Regions from separate parts of the Homo sapiens genome. Here all the other regions are linked to region 3. Evidence: fine-mapped expression QTL. A gene starts in region 3. Each other region holds a variant in brackets. All regions are shown on one strand. Distances are between the middles of the regions.

Evidence for each region. PIP is the estimated chance that this variant, and not a neighbour inherited with it, causes the effect. A credible set is the group of variants that fine-mapping cannot tell apart.
Region 1: its variant is the best candidate, but not a certain one, in a credible set for the expression of SNHG15 in whole blood (TOPMed, PIP 0.52).
Region 2: its variant is the best candidate, but not a certain one, in a credible set for the expression of SNHG15 in whole blood (TOPMed, PIP 0.84).

Annotation. Positions count from the first base shown.
Region 1 is chr7:45,060,631-45,063,306 of GRCh38, forward strand. All of the region lies in intron 2 of CCM2 (CCM2 scaffold protein), which reads left to right. Among named protein-coding and RNA genes, the nearest start is that of NACAD, 27 kb to the right of the region's middle. The variant T/G (reference allele first, on the strand shown) is at 1,334.
Region 2 is chr7:44,964,156-44,966,831 of GRCh38, forward strand. MYO1G (myosin IG) reads right to left here. Exons shown (of 22, transcript NM_033054.3): 15 at 2,517-2,676; 16 at 1,918-2,125; 17 at 1,482-1,705; 18 at 790-934; 19 at 260-364; 20 at 1-7. Among named protein-coding and RNA genes, the nearest start is that of MYO1G, 14 kb to the right of the region's middle. RefSeq lists an enhancer at 1,903-2,002. The variant G/C (reference allele first, on the strand shown) is at 1,459.
Region 3 is chr7:44,985,509-44,988,184 of GRCh38, forward strand. It overlaps SNHG15 (small nucleolar RNA host gene 15), which reads right to left and starts at 1,188. Exons shown (of 3, transcript NR_152597.1): 1 at 1,017-1,188. It overlaps SNORA9 (small nucleolar RNA, H/ACA box 9), which reads right to left and starts at 2; the gene lies at 1-2. RefSeq lists enhancers at 287-1,033, 879-998, 1,034-1,781.

The DNA of each region.
Region 1 (2,676 bases), 75 kb after region 3:
TTCTTTTTTCCCTTTGCTTTTCATGTTTGGAAGTTTCTGTTGACGTATTCTTAAGCTCAGAGAGTCTCTCCTTGGCTGTGTCCAGCCTCTTGAGCTTGTTGAAGGCAGTCCCCATTGCTGTTACAGGACTTTTGCTTTCTGGCATTTCCTACTGATTGTTGCTTAGGGTTTCCATCTCTGCTTATGCTGCCTATCTGTTCTTACATGATGTCTACTTTTTCCGTTAGAGCCATTACCATATTAATCGTAGTTGTTTTAAATTCCCAATCTGGTAGTTCCAAAATCTCCACTATGTCTGAGTCTGGTTCTGATATGAGGAACTTAGGCGTCAGGTTAATAGGCCTTAGTGTGAGGTACGTTTGGCTGGCTGGGAGTTGGGCTGTGTTTACTGTTTGCTGCCCTTGTGATGCTGGGGGATAAAAATCTCCTGTGTATCCTTGTTTTTGTCTTCCATTGTTTTTGGGTTTTCTTCAAGATTCCTTCTTAAATAGAGTCTGAGGCCTGCAGTTCTTATAGGTGTGCATCCCTGTTATTACACAGGGGTCCTGTTGATGTGGCTTTCAGGGGAGAGGAAGTGTTCTGTAGTCCTGGGATTAGGTCTCAGTGTTTTAGTGAACCTGTGTCCCTGGGCCGTGGCCTTCACATGTGCTTCTCAGTTTTGTTTTTTTCCTCCCCCTTAGGAGAGACATAAACGATAGAGGAGGCAGGAATTGGGTGTTTCCTTACCCCTAGGTGGTTAGGCTCTGGTAAAATAGTTTTCCTTGAGGAAAGCCCTTTGTTAAGGATAACAGAATGCTCTGGTCATGCCTTTTTCTTTCTTTCTTTCTTTTTTTTTTTTTTTTTTTGAGATGACCTCTGAGCCCTTTATATGTTGGTTGGGAAACTGGAGTGCAGTGGCACCATCATGACTCACTGCAGCCTCAACCTCCTGGGCTCAAATGATCCTCCCATCTCAGCCTCCTGAGTAGCTGGCACCACAGGCACACTGCCGTGCCCAACTATTTTGTTGTTGTTGTTGCTGTTGTTGTTCTTGTTGTAGAGATAGGGTCTCACCATGTTTCCCAGGCTGGTCTCAAACTCCTGGCCTCAAGCAAACCTGCCGCCTTGGCCATCCAAAGTCCTGGGATTATGGGCATGAGCCACCACACCTGGCCTGGTTATACTTTTAAATGATGTATTCTTCCCTCCTCCTACCAGAGTATGAGGAGATGTTTCTCCAGTCTCACCCTGAGAGCCTGGTGGGGCTCATGGAGGTAAAACTCAGACTGGTATGGGGACCTCCCCAGTGACTATTCCCCTGGAGTTTTTGTCTCCTACTGGTCCATGCTCAGTC[T/G]CTGCCATTTGTCAGTTCCCCTTTCCTCTCTGCTGGTGCTGGCTCTAGGGTTTCTGCCCCGCAATGAGCTGTGATTCTTAGCATTGCATATCTGTCTCTCCATCTTTGGGGTTATTGTTTTTTCATGTGACCTCAATTATCTGATGGATCTGAGAACAGTCATTGATTTTAAGTTTGCCAGCTTTCTTGTTGTGAGGATGGGAGTGATGACTTCTGAGCCTTTACAAGCTGGACAGGAAATTGGAAAGTCCCATTTCATTCTTTTTTAATAGAGAACTTAACTGTGTGAGGTAATGAACAACTGAGAAATGTTGAGTGCAAGAAGCCTGTTCTTGGGAAGAATCAGCAACCCATTTTAAAAAACAGAAACATTGAAAATGTTATGGTGGTTGGTAAGATGCAGGCAGGAGCACAGCAGGTACAGTGCTGCTGCCCACAGCCTTCTACACCTGAGGCCCTGCATTATGGAGGTTTGCTAAGCCAAGTGCCTCATGGCCATGTGTGACCAAAAAAACCTTTTTACTAAATGTTTTGTGCTGCTATAACAGATACCACAGACTGGGAAATTTATAATGAATAGATATTTCTAGGCTGTGCATGGTGCCTCACACCTGTAATCCCAGCACTTTGGGAAGCTGCGGTGAGCAGATTGCTTAAGTCCAAGAGTTCGAGACCAGCCTGGGCTACATGGCAAAACCCTGTCTCTACAAAAATTAGCCAGGCGTGGTGACACACACCTGTAGTACCAGCTACTCAGGAGGCTAAGGTGGGACAATTGCTTTGAGCCTGGGAGGCAGAGGTTGCAGTGAGCCAAGATCACGCCTCTGCACCCCAGCCTGTGTGATAGAGTGAGACCCTGTCTCAAAAAAAAAAAAAAAATCGTATCGTTCTGGAGGCTAGGAGGTTTAAGGTTGAAGGGCACAGCTGGTGAGGGGCTGCATCTGCATCTTATGTTATCCCAGGGCGAAAGGTGGAAGGGCAGGAGAGGGAAGGGGGTCAAATTCATCCTTTCATCAGGAACCTGCTCCTGAGATAACAAACCCTCTCCCAGGATAACAGCATTAATGTGCTCACAAGGGCAGAGCTCTCGTGGCCTAATCAGCTCTTTTCTTTCTTTTTTTTTTTTGAGATGGAGTTTTGCTCTTGTTGCCCAGGCTGGAGTATAATGGCGCAGTCTTGGCTCACCACAACCTCCGCCTCCCGGGTTCAAGCAATTATCCTGCCTCAGCCTCCTGAGTAGCTGAGATTACAGGCATGCACCACCACGTCCAGCTAATTTTGTATTTTTAGTAGAGACGGGGTTTCTCCATGTTGGTCAGGCTGGTTTCGAACTCCCAACCTCA
Region 2 (2,676 bases), 21 kb before region 3:
GGTTCACCTGTGGGAGAGGTGGCTGGACCCAGGCTGGTGCTGCCCTGTCACCCACCAGGGCCCCAGGCTTCGGCAGTCCCTACTGCCTCCCCTCCCCGCTGGCGACAGTTTTGGGAGTGTCAGGAGCAGCTGGGCCTGGGCTGGGGTTGCCTCCATTTTCTCCCAAGTGCCCCCCCAAAACTCTGCACCAGCTTCTAACCTTGCAGACGTGGCTAGAAAAAGAGCACAGCCCTGAAGCCATCCTTGTCCCTTGTCTAACCTTGCGGACATGGCTTGAAAAGAGCACAGCCCCGAAGCCATCTTTGTCCTGAAGTGTCTTTAGTCGCTGAGCAAACAGGCTTGATGCTGTGGGATTGTCAGTGGCCTGAGGACAGATGGAGGGGAGGGGGCGCTGCTTGGGATTGAGTCATGGGACCAGACTCAATTGATAGCAGCTGTCTGTGAATCAGCATAGCTATCCTTCATCTCGGGAAACTGAGTCACACAGACTTGTGCGTGAGCTGAGCAGCCCTGGATTTCCTGAGGGCACAGAGCCCTCTTGTGTTGACTTCTAGGCTGCATCTGAGCCTGGCCCTCCTGTCATCCACACCCACCCCCGAAGGCCACTGCTCCTGAAGCCCAGGATGAGACCTTGCAGAGCTCTGGTGGGGGCTGAGGTACAGGGCCACCAGGACAGACAACCCCAGGCCTGGGAGAGGACATCTGAGGGGACCTGGTCACAGCATTAGCCGAGAGCCCTCTTTGGCAGCCCACTTCCCCCTGGCAGCCCTGGACTCGCCTGGCACTTACAGAGGACAGGTAGTCTCGGGCCCAGGCCCGTCGGCAGCCCCAGTCCTGACGAAGCCCTTGCAGGGCCCCCATGGCGGCCACCTTGGCCTTGATCTGGGGCATGTCTGAAGGGGGGATGTTCTTCACCAGCTGCCGGGCCCGCCACCTGGGAGAGGGCATGTAGTCAGACAGATGCTGGCCATGTGTTCATGTGCTCCCTGAGCCCCCTCTCCACAGAGGAAGCTGAGCCCTCAGCCTGGTGCTGCCTGCCTTTCATGTCCCAACCTCTGCCGGCCTCTCTGGCCTTGGCCCCTTGTGCCTAACGCTTGTTCCTGGAAGGTGACCCAGGGACCAGCAGTCGCCCAGTGTCCTCCTGTTCTGAGCATGCTCTGTGCCCCTCCTTCTGGAGAACTCCTACTCAGCCCTCAAGACCCCGCTCAGATGCAGAATCCCCTTACTTCCCAGCCCTAATGGGCCTCCCCCTGCAGGCTGCAGCCCTGGACCTTGAATGCCCACCACAGTACCCAAGATGGTCAGGGCTCTGCACCAACTGTGGGACATGAGCAGTCAGCTAATGTGGCATAGCATCCACCTTCCCACCTATCAAGGGGGCTGGTGTATCTCCCATCCAGGCACTGCAGGCCCGGGATGATGGGTTAAGGTATTCAGTGGATGCCAGCTGAATGGAAT[G/C]TGTGGTGGGCTGAGAGTAGTACCTGCAGAAGAGTGCGTGGCAGGTGTCCTGGAAGGGCTGCAGCACAGCAGGGGGCAGCGGCCACACAAGGTCACGCCCGTAGAGTGGCGGCTGCCTTGCAGCCTGGAATCGCCGCTGCAGCTCAGCCAGGTGAGCCCGCACCTTGTGTCTCCGGAACCAGCGCATGATGGTGTAGATAGCCCTCAGCCTCCGGCAGCGCCACCTCGCCAAGGTGCCCCGCCATGCCTGGGTGGGCCAGGTGGGATGGGATACGCAGTCAAATTCAATCAGGCCCTAACCCTTAGACCCAAACCTGGCCCTGAGCATTTATTGAGCACTCCCTGGCCTGTCTCCATCAAGCAGAGACTCCTGTGAAACTTACAAGTGTGTTTGTGGCCCCTGGGACACAAGCTTTCCCCACCTCCATAGTGGATGTCTTCCTGCCCCGCCCACCTCACCTTCTGCAATAGCAGCACAATGATGGGGATGAGGCGGGCTCGGCTCTGCTCCAGTGTGACCAGTGTCCGGGGTGAGCGGATGAACAGCTTGCTGTGGCCAAAGGCCACGTCCCCCTGCAGCCCGTGCTGCTCCAGGAGAGCGCTCACGGCTGCCTTGTCGGAGCCCAGCAGGTGGTTGGGCCATGTGTATTCACAGGTCATCTTGTACCTGTCACCACAGGACAGGGCAGTGTGGCCCAGGCCTGGGGGAGAGATGATGGAGCCCACCCTGCCCACCCCACACCTGGGGAGATGGCAGGGATACAGAGTGTGTTCCTGGAGCACTTATGACACCTGTGCACATATGTCTTCCCATACACATGTCCTCACATACATGTCCTCACACAGCCCTCATACCCATGTTCCCACCTGTATGTCCCCACATGCATGTGCTCACACACATGTCTTCCCAGATATTTTGGTGTCTTGAGGCCAGCAGCGTGCTGGTTCCTGCTTGTATCGATGTTTGCGACGTGCTGTTTGGGGACCCTCTGCTCCTACCCCTTGGACTCCACACAGGGACTATGGCCCATGGAGTGATGGGTGTCAGGTGCCAGTACCTGAGCAGGAATCGAGAGTAGGGCTGGCGGGAAGCGAAGCCAGCCCTGCGGACCCTCACATTCTCCAGCAGCCCCAGGTATGCGACCTGGTGGCGACAGTGGTTCTCATCCAGCTTCCCAGCTACCTTGTCCTCATTGGGCTTGATGCAGCGGACGTAGA
Region 3 (2,676 bases):
TACCCTCATTCACCCAAATCCCCCACACTCAAGGAATCTGGCAGTCCACTCTCACTAAGCACCAGTCCCTGCTGGGGGCTGTGGGAAGAGACCAGAGTTCAATTAGGCACCTGAGCTTGGTTCCAGGAGCCCAGAGCTACTAATGACTCTCAGGGAAAGATCCTTTCTGGCTGAGGAAGAAGGGAAGGTGTCTTGGAAGAGATAACCTTATTAAATTATTAAATAGATCAGACAACACGAACTAAACTTCCACATTATTCTATGACACTACAATTCTAGCATGGCTTTTCACTGTGACCAGAAACATCCTTATCATCATGTAGTTAATATAAATACTGCCTTTTCCCCTTCATTTTTTTCTCATGTATCTTACGGCTCAGAAATCACTTCTGAAGGAGTAAGTAGACCAGGCACATGAAGTAGATTTCATTTTCCCCATGAAATAATGGTTCAGAGAAAACGCAGGCCTAGTTCCAGGAAGGCAGAGTTGGGGTCTCTGCAACGTGATTTACCGGGGCATCTTGCAAAGGAGTTGCTGTGACAGTAAGCTCTTCCACTTTGAGACCGTCACCTCAGCCACGGCTCCCACCTAGAAGGGAACAAATGCAGTTAGCTCCAAACGCAGTTAGCTTCAGCTTGTGCCTCTGAACCATTATCCAGCTCTAGCTCCTTGCAACGCCTGGCCCACTCTACAGCCTCTCTTGCGGCAGGTCTACACGCCACCCCATGCCTTCCGGTGAGGTCCCTCCTGACCACACGTCCCATCCCACCTACTGGGGTCCACCCAGGTCATGCAGAAGCCCCACTTCTCGGCTGAAAGAGAAGCACGAGGTTACTCATCAAGTAATCCCCGAGTCTCCTCCGGGTAAAATGTTCCGAACGCGCTCAACCGCCTCTTGAGAGGAAGTAGCACGTGTAGTGAAGGCTTGGTCTCCAAGAATCACTGGTGCCCCCACTCACTGCGGCCCAGCCTCCCACGCCGCCCGCCACTGAACCCAATCCCCCAGGACCCCTACCTGGGCTCAGGAATGGTCAGGCAACACGTGGGGCCCAGGATGGCGGTGGATGACTAGACTGCCGAAGACCGCGCCGCTGCGACTACGAAGTACGGAGTACGGAGTACAGGTCTGCCAGCCAAGACTGACGCCGCGCGCTGCGCCGCGCACCTCGACGTCACCGCGTAGTCCCGCCCCGAAGCCGTGCGTGGCCGGGGCCACAGCGTTTGGGGTAGATGACGTCACGCGGCCGCGGGCGCTCGCTTGGTAGGGTGTGCTGGGGCGTAGAGTTTAGGGTCCTGAGGCTGCGTCTGCGTGTCAACTCAGTGGAGTCTCTCGACCGCCCTTTGTTACCCTCCTTTAGTGACCAGAAGGCTGGAGTTACGTAATCTGCCCCTACAGCTAAAAGGACGGAGGCCTGACGGCGTGGCCTGGAGGGACGCGCTGAGCCCCTAATGGGTGGTGCCTTCCTGGTGCGGCCGCACAGGCGGGGCCGGGCGGAATCCAAGCACGATGTGGACACGGAGCCTTGGGAATGAACAGGAGCCTGCCTGTGGGAGCATGTGGGAAAGGTGATGCAGGTGGAAGGGCAAATACAAATTATACATAGGGTTTAATTTTCCCTGAGGAAAAGAAGGGACGAGAAACCATCCCCCTCCCTTTTTCTTTCAAAATTTCAGCCTCTCTCCTTTCCAAATGTACTCAAGTCTTTTTCTTATATGGCCAGGTTCAACTCAGGAATGTTTCTTGGGAGCCATCTCCTTGAAGTGTAATTGTTGGCTGGGTGCGGTGGCTCACGCCTGCAATCCCAGCACTTTGGGAGGCTGAGGCGGGCGGATCACAAGATCAAGAGATCGAGACCATCCTGGCCAACATGGTGAAACTCTGTCCCTACTAAAAATACAAAAATTAGCTGGGCATGGTGAAGCGTGCCTGTAGTACCAGCTACTCGGGAGGCTGAGGCAGGAGAATCGCTTGAACCCGGGAGGCGGAGGTTGCAGTGAGCCGACATAGCACCACTGCACTCCAGCCTGGAGACAGAGCGAGACTCTGTCTCAAAAACAAAGAAAGAAAAAAATGCAATTGTTAAGGGACGAAAGGGCCAAGAGTCCAGCTTCTTAGGAGGACAAAGGCTTAACTTGGCACCTGACTCCAAATTGCAAAACCTACATAATGTGATGGGCTATCTCTACTTAGCTGCATAGAAAAAGTGAGTTTCTGTCTTTGTGTTGCCTTTAGCAGGTTGCATGTGATGTACGGCATCACAATCTGGTTTAATACTTATTCAGTAATGGTTTTCTGTCTCTTCTACCTTTGTGGAGAGGTTTCATGGGTTGGGAGGAAACTACTCTCCACCCCCCACCCACCCCCAGGCAGAGGAAAGCACATTGAAAGGTCCTGAAATTGGGAAGGACATGGTTTGCTGGTGATACAGCTAAGTATTACAAGTTTGTAGTGTTCTGGAAGGGTCTCAATGAGGAGCGGGAGATAAGGACGATGTGTTCAAGGGTCTTGAATGATCAGGCTAGAAAAGTGAGAACGTGGTTCTATAAGTAAAAGCAGAGCAGTGCTTGAAACTCGTATTTTATGTATTGCACCTAGTAAATACATTCAATCACTTTACAGTATACAAATCCCATACTTCACTAAGTGTCAAAACCCTAACAGACAGATAAGGCAG